Regions from separate parts of the Homo sapiens genome. Here region 1 is linked to region 2. The links come from fine-mapping of genetic effects on gene expression. Tissue or cell type: tibial artery. Region 2 holds a variant in brackets; the other region holds the start of a gene. All regions are shown on one strand. Distances are between the middles of the regions.

Region 1 (2,622 bases), 170 kb before region 2:
CCCAGCTGGGCCTCCTGTCTCCCCTAAGACTGGCCCACGTGTGCACATATGTCTGTACCGTACTGTCCATGCCACTGGCCTGCTCTTGCCCGCCCTGGCTGCACGGGAGGAGGTGACAGTCTTAGGGGGAAGGGGCTGCCTGTGTGATAACATACCTGGTTCTCTGCAGCCCCCCACCTGGAGCACACCTTGCAGGGATGGGGGGTCCTGGGACATGGCTGAGGAGACCCTGACCTTGGAATAAGGTCATAGCACTATGCCCCAGGATAGTTTGGGGGGTCAGTAATAAGGGATAGAGCCCCAGCCTTCCTTGGGCAATAGGAAAGCAGGCAGCATGGATGGTCTTCACTGCCTCCAGCTCTGGCCACACCAGAGTCCTCGGGCTGTGGAGGAGTCCAGCCAGTGCTGTCCCCATATCTCCCTGTGGATCCCAGGGGAGGCTGTGGGGCCGGGCATATTAGAAGGGGCCCAGCAGCCTTGGTGAGTATAGATGTGCTTTCTGGGCTGCCCAGAGTTATTCAGGATTAGCAGGAAAAAAAGGGGGAGCAGGACCCAGATGGGGGCCTGCCCTTCTTAGCAGTGCCTCTCTGCCTTAGTGTCACCCATCTAATGGAGAGATATGCATATACAGAGCCCCACCTCCTTCGGACAGTGGCCCTGGCGTGGTGTGTGTTGGAGGACTGTCCACAGCCTCAGAAGCGAAGCTGGGGGAGGGTGTGAAGTCAGCCTGGGTAAGGGGACAGGAGTAAGGTAGGGGGCAGTTATGAAGCTGGAAGCTACAGGTACCATGAGGGCAGTGAGGAAAGGAGGAAGGGGCCCAAGGGGACCTCGGCCTGGTAGGGGAGATGGGTGGCAGGGACCTACAAGAAAAGTAGATGGAAGGAGAGGATGCCTGTGGGTGAGGACATGTAGGTAGGGGGACCTGGCCTGGGGCATGGAGGGCTCGATTCCTGAGAGATGAGCTGTCACTGTGGGTGGTCCCGCCCTCCACAGATGGGCGGCCCCCTCCCTGCAGGCACAGCTGGATTGCATCTGCCTGTGACATGGTAGGGGATGTGGGACACTGGGATGTATGCATAAGCATGACACAGGTTCTCTCCTCCTTCCGGCTTATCCCCTACAAAGAGGGGGTGAGTTACTTGGATCCAGGCCAAGGGGACCTTGGTTTCCCTAAGACCGGCCCAGAGTCACTCATTTGCCAGGGCTTCTTGCCTGTCAAGGAGATCCGGGTGGGGCCCAGGAGGCCCACCAGACAGATGGCTGAATCACAGGAGTGGCCGGCGGGACCCATGGCCTGAGGGCTTGTCTGGGCACCCCCACTGGATTGGGGGTGAGTCATCCCCAACTGCAGCCCCACCCCCCACGGCGCTGCTGCCTTGTGGCTCTGCAGGAACCTGTCCACTCCTCAGCCTGGTCACTGTGATTGACCTAAAGCAGCCAAGACCTGTGACCTTAGATGGAGTTAGGGGTACTCCCTCAGCATCTGCCCATGCAGAACCTTCTGGGAAATTCCCAGAAGCCACGGGGGGTCGGGGGGTTTATAGTTAAGTGCGTCATATCGTTTGTCTGGGGGAGGGGTGGGGGGGGCGGCGACCTCTCAGGGATATGGGTGAGGGCGGGTGCCTGGGTTCCCGCCTGCCGCTCCGCCCCCCGAGATCAGGGACTTTTCTCTGCTCTGCCCGAGAGACTGCAGCGGCGGCGGCGGGAGCGGGCGGACGCGCAGGCAAGACCAGGACTCGGGCTGGAGGGGCGCTGGGCTCGGACCTGCCAAGGCCACGGGGGAGCAAGGGACAGAGGCGGGGGTCCTAGCTGACGGCTTTTACTGCCTAGGATGACGCTGCGGCTTCTGGTGGCCGCGCTCTGCGCCGGGATCCTGGCAGAGGCGCCCCGAGTGCGAGCCCAGCACAGGGAGAGAGGTGGGCACCGCAAGGGAGGACCCGGCCCGGGGCACTGCACCGTGCCACCCTCCGCTCCACTCGGCCTTCATCCCCAACACCCCCCGCCCACAACCCAGCCAACTCCACGACGCCCCGCGGATTCCTCCTAATTCTGGGACTCCCCGAACCCTCCGCGATCGGTGCTGGGTTCCCTAAACCGCCTCCTATCCTGTTCCTACCCAAATTCTGGCTCCCTGGATGCGTGCGGGGTCCCCTGCCTTATGCCAATCCACGCCGGCCCCTAGAGGCTGACCTCAGTCCCAAGTCCACACCCGTGCTGGCGACTCTCCCTCCCCCGCACACCCCCAACCCTCCGCGGGAGTCTGCTCTGGGACCCACCGAGCTCAACTCCCTCCAAGGCCCTCAGGCTCAGGCCGATTCGGCCCTGGTTTGCATAAGATGAGGCCTACTCTCCCCACCATCCCAAGTCCCAGTGAGGCCACCGTGCGGGTAGGCGGGTGGTTGGCCTCCCAGAAGAGGCCCTGATCTCTCCTGCCCGCCCCAGTGACCTGCACGCGCCTTTACGCCGCTGACATTGTGTTCTTACTGGATGGCTCCTCATCCATTGGCCGCAGCAATTTCCGCGAGGTCCGCAGCTTTCTCGAAGGGCTGGTGCTGCCTTTCTCTGGAGCAGCCAGTGCACAGGGTGTGCGCTTTGCCACAGTGCAGTACAGCGATGACCCAC
Region 2 (2,756 bases):
CTGGCCTGCGAAGGTGGCCGCTACGGGCTGATCCAGGCTGCAGCTGTGGCCACGTCCAGGGAGGTGGCGCATGGGGAGGTGCTCTTTGCAGCTTTCTCCTCGGCTGCACCCCCCACTGTGGGCCGGCCCCCATCGGCGGCTGCTGGGGCATCTGGAGCCTCTGCCCTCTGTGCCTTCCCCCTGGATGAGGTGGACCGGCTTGCTAATCGCACGCGAGATGCCTGCTACACCCGGGAGGGTCGTGCTGAGGATGGGACCGAGGTGGCCTACATCGAGTATGATGTCAATTCTGACTGTGCACAGCTGCCAGTGGTGAGTTCCAGTATTGCCCCACTTTTCCGCCTCTCTGAGGCCACTGGCCAAGCATTTGCAGCCAAGGAGCTGCCCAGAGAGTCCGAGGGCAGCTGGTGGTAGCACGAGGATGATCAGATCAGCAAATATTAAGTGCTTCCTATGTTGCCTGGGCAGTGGAAGGGTACCTTACCACAAATCTGGCATGCGGGTGGCAGCAGTGTCTGGATGGGCTTGGACCAGGATGCTGGAGGGGTGGCACTTGTGTCGGTGGATTGGGAGGGTGTTTGGGGGTTCTTGGGTAGGGACAGGGACCTAGAATGGAATGAGACCTTTGGTTCTTGAGCAGGAGAGGAAGGTGAGGTCGGGATTGATGAGCTGTAGCCTCAGGATGGATAAAAAAGGGAAGAGAGACTGGGGGCGGGGATGAGATTGTCCCAGGAGGGCCAGCAGAGAAAACACAGTTGTACAGGGAGAGCTACCAGAGCGGCTGGGGGAGGGAATGAGGTTGTCCAGGGACGATGCGGCCGAGGAGGTTATCCAGGGAGGGCCTTCCTGATGCTTCTTGCTGCCTATAGGACACCCTGGATGCTTATCCCTGTGGCTCAGACCACACGCCCAGCCCCATGGCCAGCCGGGTCCCGCTGGAAGCCACACCAATTCTGGAGTGGCCAGGGATTCAGCTAACAGCTGTGGCAGTCACCATGGAAGATGGACACACCATCGCTTTCCTGGGTGATAGTCAAGGGCAGCTGCACAGGGTGAGCCCACAGGAAGTACTGGCCCCTGCCCCAGAGTCTGGAGGGAACAGATTGCTAGGGACCCAGCCTGGTTTAAGCTATCCCTGTGACCCCTGGGCCAGGAGAGATGACCTGAGCTCCTCTCCCCAGGACTGGGTGGTGTTTACCTGTGACTTTCCTCCATCCCCGCTAGGCCAGTTGGTATGACCTGTGACTGCCTAGGAGGAAATTCTATTTGTAAATTACTTCGATTGGGTGGAGGAGGGGAGGGCTTTGGGCCTCTGGCCATGGACTTGGGTCCCAGACCCTGTGGTCTCTGATCCCAGGTCTACTTGGGCCCAGGGAGCGATGGCCACCCATACTCCACACAGAGCATCCAGCAGGGGTCTGCAGTG[A/C]GCAGAGACCTCACCTTTGATGGGACCTTTGAGCACCTGTATGTCATGACCCAGAGCACAGTGAGTGCCAGGCACAAGCCAGGGCATGGCTGCTGGGAGGGGCCTCTGGGTGGGGCCAGGGACCCACTTGTGGGTGAGCCACTGGTGTTTGGATTGCTGGCCTCAGGTCCTCTTTGCTGTCTCAGCTTCTGAAGGTTCCTGTGGCTTCCTGTGCTCAGCACCTGGACTGTGCATCTTGCCTTGCTCACAGGGACCCATACTGTGGGTGGTGCGTGCTCCTTGGCAGGTCAGATTTCTGACCCCATCCCAGCCCCAGCCTCAAGCCCACAATGCTCCTGCATAATTGTCCTGTCCAGAATTCCTGACCCTTAGACCATGACTCTCAACCCCTGATCCCCAGACACCCCAATTCCTCACCCCCATCCTCTGCACTGGGCATCAGTGCCCTGCCAGGGCAGACACAGGAGCCTCTATCATGCCCACTCTAGGGCCCTGCCCAGGTCCTCCAGATTGTAGGAGTCCCTACCCTATGAACTCCCAGTGGCCCATGAGGGTCACAGATAGACACTGGTCATCTCGCCCAGGTGCAGTCGCCGTTCTGAGTGCTCGAGGGGCCAGGGCCCAGAGCAGTGGCTATGGAGCTTCCAGCCTGAGCTGGGCTGTCTGCAAGTGGCAGCCATGAGTCCTGCCAACATCAGCCGAGAGGAGACGAGGGAGGTGAATGATCAGATAGGCAGGGCCCTGGTGGGGAGGGCTCTGGGCATCAAGGTCTGGGTAGAGATCTTGGATCCTGATGTCGGACATGCCAGATACCACATGGCCTCACACAAGTCACTTCTTTTAGGAGCTCAGTTTCCCCATCTATTTCTAACTCAGGCCAGAGGGTGTTTGGGGAGGCCTGAGGGCTGTTGATTGCTGGTGCCTGCCCACATTGGGTGTCCCATAAATGTGAGCCCTGGTCTGCTGCCCACTAGCCCCAACAGTGTGTCCCTGGCTCTCTTGGCAGGTTTTCCTATCAGTGCCAGACCTGCCACCCCTGTGGCCAGGGGAGTCATATTCCTGCCACTTTGGGGAACATCAGAGTCCTGCCCTGCTGACTGGTTCTGGTGTGATGTGCCCCTCCCCAGACCCTAGTGAGGCCCCAGTGCTGCCGAGAGGAGCCGGTGGGTGAGAGAATGGGCCAGCCTGGTGGGGGCCAGCCCCTGCTTCAGGGGATGCGGTGGGGTTAAAGTGTGAATCCAGGCAAAGAGCCATGAATGGATGCCTTTCTCTGGGTCCTCCCACTCCCCAACCACCTGAAGCCTCCATTCTGTGCCCTTGGACTGTATTC

The links. PIP is the estimated chance that this variant, and not a neighbour inherited with it, causes the effect.
Region 1: COL7A1 starts here. The variant in region 2 is fine-mapped to the expression of COL7A1 in tibial artery (GTEx, PIP above 0.99).

Annotation. Positions count from the first base shown.
Region 1 is chr3:48,594,369-48,596,990 of GRCh38, reverse strand. It overlaps COL7A1 (collagen type VII alpha 1 chain), which reads left to right and starts at 1,662. Exons shown (of 119, transcript NM_000094.4): 1 at 1,662-1,723; 2 at 1,831-1,916; 3 at 2,443-2,622. The coding sequence starts at 1,832.
Region 2 is chr3:48,421,061-48,423,816 of GRCh38, reverse strand. PLXNB1 (plexin B1) reads left to right here. Exons shown (of 38, transcript NM_001130082.3): 3 at 1-312; 4 at 870-1,052; 5 at 1,358-1,486; 6 at 1,612-1,712; 7 at 2,011-2,143; 8 at 2,433-2,589. Among named protein-coding and RNA genes, the nearest start is that of PLXNB1, 7.6 kb to the left of the region's middle. The variant A/C (reference allele first, on the strand shown) is at 1,427.